Homo sapiens: one gene and its partner. The protein of the gene in region 1 purifies or fractionates together with the protein of each later gene. This does not show direct contact. Each region holds a gene or a part of one and is shown on either strand. Other genes may lie near its edges.

Region 1 (9,044 bases):
ACAGCATTGATTACATTTCTCGGTTCAATGACCTGGCCCAAGAGCTGTCCATCGCTGAGCCTGGCCGCCGAGAAGCTCTGTTTGATGGTGGTGGAGGCGGCCCCGCTGTCAGTGACCTGTCCCAGTGACCACACGTCCTGGTGGCGGATGAAGCCCTCTTCGAGCTAGAGAAAAATAGATAAGCCCAGCAGCCCCAGAAGATGGTCTGAACAGAGGCATCTCCGCACCCAAGACTGTGCAACGGGCAGGAACGTGGTCACAGAGCTGCTTCCCCACGAGCAGCAGGCAACGGCGTCCAAGGAGACTAGGATGAGTTCTTGGCAAGGGCCAGCGTTAGAAATCACTGTGGTACTAGAGCCGTTCTTCACCACGCCTGGGCCCATGTTAGGGTCTGCATAATGATCCCATTTCAGCCTGTGCTCTGCCTCGATTGTTGTGTTGGACATTCCGGTGGCATTTCCTTCTGAGACAAGGGAGTATGTGTGCCTTGGTGTAGTTGCTGTGCACTAGGAGCTGTGATCTCCCTCTCTGCAGGGAGGCCCCAGCCCCTGCTGCTTGCTTTCTGCCAAACCTGTGCTATGCATCAGCTGTGCCCTCTGTGGACTGTAACGGGCAGGACAGTTGGGTGTGGCCTGGGCTCATGCCTGGTGGTGTCACATCCCAAGGCAGCAAGAGCATGGATACCGATCACAGGGCTGCTGCGGAGTCGTGGGGCCCTGGGCTGGTGCCTCCCCTCCCTAGAGGTTTTGTTCGTACTCTTAACAGGGAGTGGGGGCAGGAAGAGTCCTGTACTATGCAGGTTGTGTGGACTTTACATGGGACCCTGCTAAGCTGGTTGAAAATGTTTTTCTTGTGTTTTAAGAATTAGGAGACATGGAAGAGGAAGAACAAAGTCCCCTCTGTAGTTGGTTTCCTTCCTGTGTCCCTTTGCAAGCTTCCAGGCGATCTAAGGTGTCATTTCTCCCTCCTGGGGTGACCCTTAGGCGCTAATATGATTACAGCGAAGACTTTCCTGATAAGTTCTCAAACTCGATGTGTGACTGTTTGGCACTTGAGACAAACCTGCCTTTGCAGGGAAAGTGTCTCTCACGGGCATTGGTGTGGGCGTGCCTGACATACGTGTTCAGTCCCTTGCATACCTTTGCCTTGAGACTTCTGTGTCTCCTTCCCATTTGGGACACCCAGGTGAGGGCCCAGACATCTGGATGTGGTCAGACCTCACCAAATATATGCCTTCGTGGTGGTCTCCCTCCTTGCGCCCTCTTGGGTGGCCAGCGTTCCTACTGCAGACGGCCCAACATCCAGTCTTTCCCCAGGACAGAGCTAACAAGGGCCCCTTTGCCTTCTCATCCTCAGGAGTTCCAGGCACATGAGTCACCGTCCATCCACATCCAGTGTGGCCTGGAGCTGCTACAGAGGTGTTGGGCAGGCCATGCCTGTGCCGCCATCTCTCCCTTCCTGCCTCATTTCATCCCCCGCAGCAGCCGGGATTGATTGTGCTTTCCTAACCCCCTTGGACCTACTCTCCCTCCTCCCCACCATTCCTCTTCCCCCACATGTGTGGCACGCTGCAGCCCTCAAGGCCAGCCCTGGCCCCTCCACTGCTTCTCTCCCCATCCACAATGGAGAAGGTGAAAAGAGGAGGGAAAGGCCTTTGGTGTGGACAAGCATGTGGACGCCCTCCGTCCTGCAGTCTTGCCAGCCCACCACAGCCACTGTAGACCACAGGCAGGCCGTGTACTGCACCACTGGGAGGACGTGGAGAGGACAGTGAACTTCCAGGCAAGAGCTTCCTTCTTTTGTCTCACGAGTTTTTCTTAGAGCTCTTGCCTGAGCTGGCTTCCCTCCTTCAGACATTGACATGAGATCTTAAGCAAACAGTCCCAAACCTCTTAGGGGTGAAAAAAGAAACATGCCACTTGATTAGGAGAGAGACAGCAGTGTTTGAACTACAGCATCTTTACACTAGCTTGTGTTTTGTGCTACGTATACCAGCTTCCAAAATTAGCATCTCATTGAGCCAGAGAAGACAAGGAGATCTCCCTCTGGGCATCTGGCTTTGCTGCGTCTCTAGAGGGTTAGGATACCAGGCCGAGTTCAGGCCACTGCTAGCTTTCTCATACTCCCACAGGCTAGACCAGAGATGCCAAGTCCCAACAGCACTGAGCTGTGTGCACTGTGCCAGGGACAGGAGGGTTTGTGAACTGCCTGTCAGGGTACCTGTTAGCCCCTGACAACTCAGTGGGGTGAAGTTTTGGAGGTCAGAGTCTGCTTTCGTAGGCTCTTTAGACAGCACCTACCACTTGGTTCTCCAGCGTAGACTCCTGGGAGCAGCCAACTGCAGCCATTGCCATCCAGTGGGGAGATGGGTTAGGGAGGAGGACGGGCTGACTCCTCTCCTGTAATAAAGCTGACAAGAGTTCTAGAGGATTCTGCTTCTCTAGTAACTAGACAGGTGATACGCATTTGCTTGCCACATTAAGGGAAAATGGTGTCATTTGTTGCAGAAAAACAATGGATACATTTTCTTCTGGCCTAAATGAATATTTATGTGCAAACATAGGCAACTGTTAAAGGCTGGAATTTTCAAAAGATCCAAACAGAGACTTCCTGCATCTTCTGCCTTTCCAACAGAAGCGGTGATCGTCTAAGTATGAGCCTGTGGCTTCCTTTGTGCATTTGAGCATGCTGTAATTAAGATGAGATCAGTTTCTTAGAAAAAGCTTTCCTGAATCCCTCTGACGTTGCCTGGGATCTTTCTGTTGATTCGTCTTTTCTGGAGATTGGGACAGAGCATCTGTGGTCCAGGGAAGTTAGTCCTCTGGCCTCAATTCTGTTGTGGATGTGCAGTGATAAGCGGGCATTGCGTGCCTCGGGGGATGCCTAGTTCGTGGCTTCCTGGCTGTTTTGTCCTTCTGTGTCTTGTAGCTGTAGGGTGCCAGCTCAGGGAGTGGGGTGTTGGCGGCGTTTCCGCGGTTGGCCTCCTTGCTTTGCCGCACCTCCAGGTTCTGGGCATGAGAGGCCGTGGCCTCATTTCTGGTGGATAACCTTTTTAGTTTAATAGCATCTTTAATTAGATCACAGCATTGAATTCAAAATTTCTTCTGCAAAGAAAGTTGTGGGGCATAAGACACCGGGAATGAGGGAGGAGGAAGACAGTTGTGTTTTCTCTTTAAACCTTGAGCTCTAGCCGATGCATTTGTCAGGAAATACAGCACTTTGTCTTAAGAAAACAAGGAAGGAGGCCGGGCGCAGTGGCTCACGCCTGTAATCCCAGCACTTTGGGAGGCCGAGGCGGGCGGATCACCTGAGGTGGGGAGTATGAGACCACCCTGACTAACATGGAGAGACCCTGTCTCTACTAAAAGTACAGAATTAGCCGGGCGTGGTGGCGCATGCCCATAATCCCAGCTACTGAGGAGACTTGAGGTAGGAGAATCACTTGAACCTCAGCGGCGGAGGTTGCAGTGAGTCGAGATCGCGCCAGTGCACTCCAGCCTGGGCAAGAAGAGCGAAACTGGGTCTCAAGTTAAAAAAAGAAAGCAAGGAAAGAGTAATTTACAACGAAGGAAAAAAACCCACAGCACACCCTTCGCGGCTGTCAGCGCTCTCCTGATGTCACAGTGGCTGCGTGTCCTTGGGGTGGGTGAGGTGTGGGGAGCCCAGCCCCTGGCCCTGCCTCCCGCGCCCCGCTCCCCTTCTCTCTCTTACTCGGTTAAGCCATAGCGAGGCCTCCGCTCGTTTCAGATATGAATTTGTTTTATAGATTATAAATATGCATATACAGTGTATGTATAAAGCAGAATGCCTGCCTTTCCTGGTTATTTTTTGTACCATATTGTAAATTATATTATTTATTCTTTACCAATTTTGGGAATAAAAGGTGTTTTGGTTATTTAATATAATAAGAGCTGTTAAACTTCTGTTTAAATTTCCAGTTCAACTTGTAAATGTTTTTATTGTGCATAAATACATACTAATGTTGATCTAAGGACTGTCGTTTGTGCCTGTTCTTCAGGGCCGCGCGCCCATGCCCGCAGTCCCTGGTCGGGCAGGTGCGGCCCAGGTGCGGCCCCGCGGTCGGCTCGCGGGCTCCCGCAGACCGGGCTTCCTCCCGAGGGCGCGGCCGTCCCAGGGCCCGCCCGGCCCGCCGCCCAATGCGAGCTCCCACCTCCGCGAGCGGCGTCGCCTTCCCCAATCGGCTGCGGGCGCGGCGCCGACCGTTCAAAGCCTAAGTCGTCGGGGGTGGGCGTGAGGGGCGGTGGCCGCGCTGAGATAGGCTGCGGAGGGATGATTGGCGTCTTGGCGCCCAATGGGCGCTGGCGGGCGGCCTTGAGTACCTGCGCTGGGCGGGCGGGAACGGCGCGCGGCGAGCTGAGGGTGGCGGCGGTCGACATGTTCCAGGTCCCGGATAGCGAGGGCGGCCGCGCCGGCTCCAGGTGCGGCGCGGGGCACACGGGAGGCGGGCGGATAGCGCGACCACGTGGCGGGAGCGGGCCAGCCCAGGGCGTCCACCAGCCGTGTGGGGTTGGGGTGGGGTTGGGGGGCAGGGCGACCTCACAGAGGCCCTCGGGGCCGCCGCCCGCCTTTCTGCGCCGCCGCCAGACCGAGGCCCGAAGCCCGAGGGGCCGCTCGCTGAGGCCCGGGCTGTGGAGAGCTGCCCGCGACCGAGGCCGAGGGCGGGGAGGGGCGCCCGGGCTCTGGGAACAAAGCTGTGTGGAGGGCGGGCTGCGCTCCCTCGCGCCTGGGCGCCCGCGTTCCGTGTGGTGCGTTCCGTGGGGGGTTTCCTGGGGGCGGGGTGTGCCCGTGGGTGCGGCCCATTTTGTCTGTGGGATGCGTGTCCATGTTCCCGGGGGGGTGTCCCTAAGGGGTGTGCGGCGATGTGTTCGTGGGGGGTGTCTGGCCATGCCCCCGCTCCTGTGCGTGTGGCCGTGTGCCCGTGTCCCTGGTGTGTGTGTGGCCTGTGCCCTGCCCATGGCCGCGCTTCCACTAGTTCATGTGAGTCCACTTCCTTTGGAAAGTGCCAGGGCGTCTGGGGAAGAGTCAGTTCTATCTCCTGGGAAGGTGGATGGCGCTCCTGGGCTTCGCTGTAGGAAGAAGTGGATTGGGACGAAGATATCCTGACTCAGCTTTAATAGCCAGGAACACTGAGCACACTTTTCTTATGTTTTTGAACTTTTAAAGCACTCTTTGGGTATTGGGACTCGCATGAATTAGAGGGACAGAGCTTACAAGGTCTTTCGTGCCACTTGAGCAGTAAACTTGCATTGTGAAGTTTGGGTCTTCAGATGCCTGAGGTTTTCTGTATGATGAGCCCCTCTGTGGCACAGCCTCGCCAGAGAAGTAGAAGAGAATATGTGTGCCATGACTGTTAAGACCAATACTATATTGCTTCTCAGCCTTTTGGCTATGATCAAGTGAAGACAAATACTATATTGAATAAATACTAAGTAAAAGAATTGCTCCAACTTGCTAAAAATAAAAACCCTTTAGATTGGCCGGGCGTGGTGGCTCACACCTGTAATCACGGCACTTTGGGAGGCTGAGGTGGGCGAGTCACGTGAGGTCAAGAGTTCGAGACCAGCCTGGCCAACATGGTGAAACCCCCGTCTCTACTAAAAATGCAAAAATTAGCCAGGCGTGGTGGTGTGTGCCTGTAGTCCCAGCTACTTGGAGAGGCTGAGACAGGAGAATCACTTGAACCCAGAGGCAGAGGTGGCAGCGAGCCAAGATAATGCCACTGCACTCCAGCCTGTACGACAGAGCAAGACTCCGTCTCAAAAAAAAAAAAAACCCTTTAGATTTGAGGGAGTTAGGTCAGTATTCAGTAATACTTGTAACCAAATAATTACCCGTGGCAGGGTGCAGTGACTCAACGGCTGTAATCCCGGCACTTGGGGAGGCCGAGGCAGGTGGACCACGAGATCAGGAGATCGAGACCATCCTGGCCAACACGGTGAAACCCCGTCTCTACTAAAAATACGAAAAAATTAGCCGGGTGTGGGGTGGCGGGTGCCTGTAGTCCCAGTTCCTTGAGAGGCTGAGGCAGGAGAATGGTGTGAACCCGGGAGGCGGAGCTTGCAGTGAGCCGAGATCACACCACTGCACTCCAGCCTGGATGACAGAGCAAGACTCCGTCTCAAAGAAACAGCCCTTCATCCATGGAACAGTGATTATTATGCCTAGGTCTGCACCGATGTGGGACCAGGAGTTTAAACTAGTGCTCAGAGCGAATCCGGTTTCTGGTTCCTGGTGGCCAGAGTTTTGCACCACCCACATCAGTGGGGGGAGGGACTGCATCCCCAGCCCTGTCCCAGTTGTGTGCATTTAGTACGTTTCCTTTTTGTTTGTGCTGCCTGGCACTGGCTGCCCGGTAAATGATGGTGTTTATTATCACCCTGAGCGACGCCGATGTTTTTATATTGACTTTCACGCTCCAGAAGTTAGCTGCACAGGGCCGCACTAAAGTCATACTCACACTACCCTGGGGGACTGGTTTCTGGACAAGGTGTTGAGAAAGGGAGAAAACTCTTCCTTTTAGGATGGTGAGGAAGGAAAGCCGGTCTGAACTGGATGATGAGGTATCACTGGAAGCTTCTGCTTGGGGTCCACCAGACGCTGCACATTTGCCACTCATCTGAACGGGGTCGAGTCGCAGGGCGGGCGCCTTGTAAGCGTCACATTTAGTTTTGCTGTGAAGCGAGTCAGGTGGTGGCTGTAAGATTACCTAGCCAGGTTTTCCTCTCCTGAGACCTCACATCTCTCCTTTCCTTGCTGAGGGATTGTCTTGTGTTAAAGGGGTTTCGTAAAAGCGTTATGCTTTAGCCGCGATTAACCTGAGGTCTTCCTTCAAGCTGGAACATTTCTATTTGTAAGGAATTTAATCCAAGTTTATTTCTCACTGCTTCTCTCTAAGCCTGACCAGTCCCCTCATCCTTTCTGAAACTCGGGGACAAACTATTAGAGAGGGTCAGGAGCATGGAGACCCCCGAGGAGGGTCACACAGCTTTTCCCTACCTCTCCAGTGCTGCAGTCCACTCCAGCTGTGTGAGGTTTTTCTTCTCCTGTGCGCTTGAGTTTCTCTTGTGTGTTTTGAATATCTTCACTGAAATATATGGAAGGGGTACCACAAAAGGCAAAAAATAATTGGGAAGCACCCCCCACTCACATTGTGAATTTGTCCCCAAATGTGTGAGCTCTAGCGTTCCCCCTCCCCCTATTAGTGTCATAGTGGTAAGTGCCTGTAGCCTAGAGAAAGCCACACTGCGCCATTGTTGTCGGGCTGTTTTTGTTGAAAGGTCTATTGAACGCTCAGTTCCATTCATCCGAGACCCCTTTGAGGCAGCCCAGCCCTGCGGTCTGTGTGAAACCTGCAGTGGGACCTGTTGCCTTTGTGACCGAGATAGCCGCTGCCCCTTGCCTGGGGCTGGGCCTGTGTGCGCCATAATTTCTGCTAAAACCGTCTTTGGTACCACTTTTTTTTCTTTGCTTGTTTTCAAATAAAATTCAGAAAAGCACATAGAACAATATTAAATATTGTGTTTCCATCACCCCAAAGTAACACTGGTCATTGCAAGTAACTACCACTCACCTCCTGCGCCCATTGGTCCCCATTCCACATGGAGGCCACAGACTCAATTTGGGTTTCACCTCTTCCAAATTTTGGAGTCCCGATGGCACTAGGCGTCTGTCACGTCACTCACACAGACACTGAAACCACCTGTGCAGAGCTCTAGCTTTCCTGTTTAAACTTGAAGCTCCTCCGGGGTAAGGACTTGCTTTCCTCTATCTACGGCGTCTGGGGAAGGATTGCCAATGATAGGTGCTCGAGAGATGTGCAAGTTGAACTGAAGCAAGGGTGAAAGGCAGAGGAGACAGGAGACTGTGAATGTAGGGAATGTGGGGTCGGGAAAGAGTCCTACAGAGCTTGCAGTCAAGGCGAGTCTACCTGGAATCAGATCTGACAGTTTGTAGCACCTTGAGGGCTTGAGAGAAAAGCCATATTTGAAATAAGTCAGTAAAAGGAATTATAGCTCATGCTCAGCTCACATAAGACTTGATAAATTCAGTTCAGTTCGAAAGATTGCAGGCCTTCATCCCTTATTTCCAAAGAGAGAACTGTAGAGACCCGTGCATGTTTAGACCTGCTACACTATCCAAGAAAAATCGCAGAATTGGCTGGGCACAGTGGCTCACGCCTGTAATCCCAGCACTTTGGGAGGCCGAGGCGGGCGGATCACTTGAGGTCAGGAGTTTGAGACCAGCCTGGCCGACGTGGTGAAACCCCGTCTGTACTAAAAATACAAAAAAATAGCCAAGCACGGTGACGCACACCTGTAATCCCAGCTACTCGGAAGGCTGAGGCGGGAGAATTGCTTGAACCTGGGAGGTGGAGGTTGCGGTGAGCTGAGATCGCGTCACTGTATTCCAGCCTGGTAACAGAGTGAGACTCCATCTCAAAAAAATAAAATAGGCCGGACACAGTGGCTCATGCCTGTAATCCCAGCACTTTGGGAGGCTGAGGTGGGCGGATCACCTGAGGTCAGAAGTTCAAGACCAGCCTGGCCAACATGGTGAAACCCCGTCTCTACTAAAAATAGAAAAATTAGCTGGGCATGGTGGCGGGCATCTGTAATCCCAGCTACTCAGGAGCCTGAGGCAGGAGAATCGCCTGAACCCAGGAGGTGGAGATTGCAGTGAGCCGAGATTGTGCCATTGCACTCTGGCCTGGGCAACAAGAGCGAGATTTCGTCTCAAAAAAAAAAAAAAATGTAGAATTAGGAGGGCTGCGTGATTCAAAAATGGATATGGAAGTCAGATGGCCTTATGGCCACTCTAAGAGCACCTCACCTAAAATCTTGTTAAGCCACGCCCTCCCACCCACCACCCTTTATTTTTTTTCCTTTTGGTGAAACAAGTCCTCACTCTTTCGTCCAGGCTGGTGTACAGTGATGCAATCATGGTTCACTGCAGCTTTGACCTCCTGGGCTCAAGCCAGCCTTAGCCTCCCGAATAACTGGGACAACAGGCGCATACCACCACAC
Region 2 (5,401 bases), on another chromosome or scaffold:
AGGGCATTCTGTTTAGGGTGATGAACTTATTCATGAATGTTATTAAAACCATTTAAATATGCCATAGTTTAAATTTGTGATCCATGCTGTTCAATCTGTGACCTAGGATAGCAGCATCAAGGAGCATTGTGTACATGCAGAAGTGCACAGTACCTGGAGTGAAACTGCTTGTGTTCGATTTCTGATACCATTCATAACTGGCTGTGTGATCTCAAGTAAGTTCTTTAAGTCTCTCAGCCTCGGTTTGTACATTTGTGTGATAAGGATAATGATAGTTTTCAGATTATTTTCATAGTCATTGCTTGATTTGATTCTTCCAATGGTTCCTCTCACTTTGCAGATAAGAAAACTGAAGAACCAGCTGGGCGCGGTAGCTCACGCCTGTAATCCCAGCACTTTGGGAGGCTGAGGCGGGTGGATTACCTGAGGTCAGGAGTTCAAGACCAGCCTGACTAACATGGCGAAACCCCATCTCTACTAAAAATATAAAAATTATCCAGGGGTGGTGGCAGGTGCCTGTAATCCCAGCTACTTGGGAAGCTGGGGCAGGAGAAGCACTTGAACCCGCGAGGTGGAGGTTGCAGTGAGCTGAGAGCGCCACTGCCCTCCAGCAGCCTGGGTGACAGAGCGAGACACTGTCTCAAAAAAAAATAATAATAAAATAAAAATAAACCATCAGTGATAGTAAAAAGCTCACTTAAGCTCATTCACCTAGTTTTATAGATCAGACTTAAACCTCTTGTTTATTTTGTTTTGCTTTATGTATCTATAGTTCCATTGTTTTTAAAATTTAAAATTAATTTTAAACCTTATGAATGCTTTCCCTACAGATAAAATTATGTAACTAGAACAATTTAACTCATATAAATTATTATTTAATCAAGTCCTTAATTTTGAAGACTTCATATTGATATGTCTTGAATACTTGAAATCTATAGTTAACTAGATATTTCTCTTATAACCTGTCCTTATAAATCTACATTATAAATAAAAAGTCCAGTGTCCCTTCCTTCAGATTAGCAGAAGTTTCAAAATTACATTTAAAGTATTTTCTTTGTTTTCCTTCATACTGATTTTCATTTTTATTGTTTGTTATAGAACCTCTAAAATGCAGACCTCCAGCTCTAGATCTGTGCACCTGAGTGAATGGCAGAAGAATTACTTCGCAATTACATCTGGCATATGTACCGGACCGAAGGCAGATGCATACCGTGCACAGATATTACGCATTCAGTATGCATGGGCAAACTCTGAGATTTCCCAGGTCTGTGCTACCAAACTGTTCAAAAAATATGCAGAGAAATATTCTGCAATTATTGATTCTGACAATGTTGAATCTGGGTTGAATAATTATGCAGAAAACATTTTAACTTTGGCAGGATCTCAACAAACAGATAGTGACAAGTGGCAGTCTGGATTGTCAATAAATAATGTTTTCAAAATGAGTAGTGTACAGAAGATGATGCAAGCTGGCAAAAAATTCAAAGACTCTCTGTTGGAACCTGCTCTTGCATCAGTGGTAATCCATAAGGAGGCCACTGTCTTTGATCTTCCTAAATTTAGTGTTTGTGGTAGTTCTCAAGAGAGTGACTCATTACCTAACTCAGCTCATGATCGAGACCGGACCCAAGACTTCCCGGAGAGCAATCGTTTGAAACTCCTTCAGAATGCCCAGCCACCTATGGTGACTAACACTGCTAGGACTTGTCCTACATTCTCAGCACCTGTAGGTGAGTCAGCTACTGCAAAATTCCATGTCACACCATTGTTTGGAAATGTCAAAAAGGAAAATCACAGCTCTGCAAAAGAAAACATAGGACTTAATGTGTTCTTATCTAACCAGTCTTGTTTTCCTGCTGCCTGTGAAAATCCACAGAGGAAGTCTTTTTATGGTTCTGGCACCATTGATGCACTTTCCAATCCAATACTGAATAAGGCTTGTAGTAAAACAGAAGATAATGGCCCAAAGGAGGATAGCAGCCTGCCTACATTTAAAACTGCAAAAGAACAATTATGGGTAGATCAGCAAAAAAAGTACCACCAACCTCAGCGTGCATCAGGGTCTTCATATGGTGGTGTAAAAAAGTCTCTAGGAGCTAGTAGATCCCGAGGGATACTTGGAAAGTTTGTTCCTCCTATACCCAAGCAAGATGGGGGAGAGCAGAATGGAGGAATGCAATGTAAGCCTTATGGGGCAGGACCTACAGAACCAGCACATCCAGTTGATGAGCGTCTGAAGAACTTGGAGCCAAAGATGATTGAACTTATTATGAATGAGATTATGGATCATGGACCTCCAGTAAATTGGGAAGATATTGCAGGAGTAGAATTTGCTAAAGCCACCATAAAGGAAATAGTTGTGTGGCCCATGTTGAGGCCAGACATCTTTACTGGTTTAAGGGGACCCCCTAAAGGAATTTTGCTCTTTGGTCCTCCTGGGACTGGTAAAACTCTAATTGGCAAGTGCATTGCTAGTCAGTCTGGGGCAACATTCTTTAGCATCTCTGCTTCATCCTTAACTTCTAAATGGGTAGGTGAGGGGGAGAAAATGGTCCGTGCATTGTTTGCTGTTGCAAGGTGTCAGCAACCAGCTGTGATATTTATTGACGAAATTGATTCCTTGTTATCTCAACGGGGAGATGGTGAGCATGAATCTTCTAGAAGGATAAAAACAGAATTTTTAGTTCAATTAGATGGAGCAACAACATCTTCTGAAGATCGTATCCTAGTGGTGGGAGCAACAAATCGGCCACAAGAAATTGATGAGGCTGCCCGGAGAAGATTGGTGAAAAGGCTTTATATTCCCCTCCCAGAAGCTTCAGCCAGGAAACAGATAGTAATTAATCTAATGTCCAAAGAGCAGTGTTGCCTCAGTGAAGAAGAAATTGAACAGATTGTACAGCAGTCTGATGCGTTTTCAGGAGCAGACATGACACAGCTTTGCAGGGAGGCTTCTCTTGGTCCTATTCGCAGTTTACAAACTGCTGACATTGCTACCATAACACCGGATCAAGTTCGACCCATAGCTTACATTGATTTTGAAAATGCTTTTAGAACTGTGCGACCTAGTGTTTCTCCAAAAGATTTAGAGCTTTATGAAAACTGGAACAAAACTTTTGGTTGTGGAAAGTAAGTGGGATACTTGGAATCAAGGCATCTCTGTAGTACAGTCTTCTTTATTTTTTAGCATAGAAAGTTGGGGATGTGTTAATTGTATTTTTAAGAATATATTCTAAGTTCTGTACTTCAAATAATAGCACAGATTTTACATCTGATTGACATAGTGTATGTTAATGTAAGTTTTGCTTTCCAGTGATTACCTGATACGTAAGCCTATTTGAACAAAGTGAGAATGAACTTTTGTTTCTAAGAAGTCTTTATCTTGAAGCTATATAACATGAAAAGTGAGCTCAAATTTTTTTTAGTTGAAGATTACATATAAAGTTGTGTCTGATTAATATTCATCTTTTATTGAAGAAAGTGCCTTCTGATGGCCACATAATTCTTAATGTCAGCTAGTATAATGGTTTACATTTGGACAAAGTATTGCTTAGTGTTATTTAAGTAGATTTAAGATCTCAAAGCTAAAGTGCCAATTTTTACTTTCTTCAGCCAATTTGTTACCTCTTTTATGGTTTTTAATTTTTATCAGGACTAACATTTTCAGAAATAGCAAGGTGTGATCTAGTATTAGATTCACAGAACTGAAAGGTTAATTAAGAATGTTGGTTATTTTCACGGGAGCGTGTGATATTTAACATTAATATTTTATTTGACACTACAGCCTGTAATACTGCTCTCTTTCAAAAACAAGTTTTCAGATTTTTATAACAGACCCATTTTGTTTTATGAAACATGTTCATTACAGAAACATGAGAAAATAGAGATAAGTAAAAAGAATAAAAGTCACTATTATCCTACCACTTTGCGGGACACACTATTAATATTTAAGCATAGATTCTTCCAGATGTTTTGTTTTATACAGCAGTAGGATTGTGTAATGTATTCTCTCTTGTAGCCTATTCTTCAAAGCGTATCTTCACTTTCCATGTTAACATAAATGTCCTTTTATGATTGTCTAGGATTCCATGGATGGATGGAATATAATTGAGTCATCTGGTAGAGCGCATATAGGACAGGACGCTAGGTTGTTTATCTTTTGTTTATTGTAAAGGAACTATGTGGGATGCATTTGGTGATCTTTTTAAAAAATGTATAAATTTCTTGAGTAATTCCTGGATTAAAGAATATGCACTTTTTAAAGCTTTTGGCTTGCATTCTAAATTGTCCTCTTGAAAAAGTAGTTCCTGTGTAAAACTCCATCTGCACTGAATCAGAGCTATGGCAGCATTGGGCAGTAGGCAGTTTTGGTATTTGTTGGCATTCTTTTTGCATTTATTCAAAAAACTGAAGGTAGTGAACGTAGAGCAATGAACAACACAAATATCCTTGGTCTCGTGGAGGTTATATTTAAGTTCTAATGTTTTCTCTTGTGAACAGTGCAATTTGAAATGACAAATTGAAACACTTTTAGTTGTTGAATTTAGACAGTTTGTGTATATAGTTTAAATTTTTATTCTTGGTTTGCCTTCTGTTTTTATGTTAAAAGATTGTTGCAATTTTTAGTTTTTCCCTTTGTAATATGTGATTGTCTTTCATTAGAATTCATTTTTTGTTTTGTTTTGGTTATTTTGAAACAGTCTCGCTGTGTTGCCTAGGCTGGAGTGCAGTGGTGTGATCTCAGCTCACTGCAACCTCTGCCTCCTGGGTTCCAGTGATTCTTGTGCCTCAGTCTCCCTTGTAGCTGAGACCACAGGTTTGCACCACCACACCCAGCTAATTTTTGTATTTTTAATCGAGATGGGGTTTCACCATGTTGCCCAGGCTGCTCTCGAACTCCTGGCCTCAAACGATCCACCCACCTCAGCCTCCTGAAGTGTTGGGATTACAGGCATGAGCCACCACGCCTGGCCTTTTTTATTAGAATTTGGACGTTAAACTTCTTGTCTTCAGTTCTTAGTTATATCTTTTAACATCCTAAAACATTCCACAATATTCATTACTGTCTTTATCCCTTTCTATTTCTATATAAACAGCACTATAAACTTGGTTTCTTTGGTATTGATGTCAAGGAATTCTCTAGTTTTTCTTTCTTGGTGTTTAATTGCAGATCACTCCCACCTTCTTGGGTCTAGCTATTTAGATTTATCAGCATTTGCCCTCTAGCTGTTAATGTTTTATTTAGCTCTGAAATTTGGTCTTAATATTTATTATCAGTTTTTTTCAGTTACAGCTTCTGCCAGCCCTGACTTTAAGCTCCCTTGATCACCAGCCACAGGGCCACTTCTTTCTATGGAGTTTAGAAATTGTGACAAGGAGAGAAAGTCTAGTTGGTTTAGCT

What was found.
Region 2: the proteins of JPT2 (region 1) and FIGNL1 purify together in Homo sapiens (affinity purification with mass spectrometry; 2 studies listed by BioGRID and IntAct, with this or other methods). This does not show direct contact.

The regions. Positions count from the first base shown.
Region 1 is NC_000016.10:1,673,918-1,682,961, forward strand, and holds the start of JPT2 (jupiter microtubule associated homolog 2), read left to right. Parts: upstream 1-4,361; 5' UTR 4,362-4,395; coding exon 4,396-4,439; intron 4,440-6,445; exon of another isoform or gene 6,446-6,573; coding exon of another isoform or gene 6,574-6,581; intron 6,582-9,044. Other genes in the region: CRAMP1 (protein cramped-like), read left to right, coding at 1-128. UniProt on the Homo sapiens protein: Nicotinic acid adenine dinucleotide phosphate (NAADP) binding protein required for NAADP-evoked intracellular calcium release. Confers NAADP-sensitivity to the two pore channels (TPCs) complex.
Region 2 is NC_000007.14:50,442,995-50,448,395, reverse strand, and holds the end of FIGNL1 (fidgetin-like protein 1), read left to right. Parts: exon of another isoform or gene 1-106; 5' UTR 107-215; intron 216-340; exon of another isoform or gene 341-428; intron 429-1,098; 5' UTR 1,099-1,108; coding exon 1,109-3,133; 3' UTR 3,134-4,263; downstream 4,264-5,401. UniProt on the Homo sapiens protein: Involved in DNA double-strand break (DBS) repair via homologous recombination (HR). Recruited at DSB sites independently of BRCA2, RAD51 and RAD51 paralogs in a H2AX-dependent manner. May regulate osteoblast proliferation and differentiation.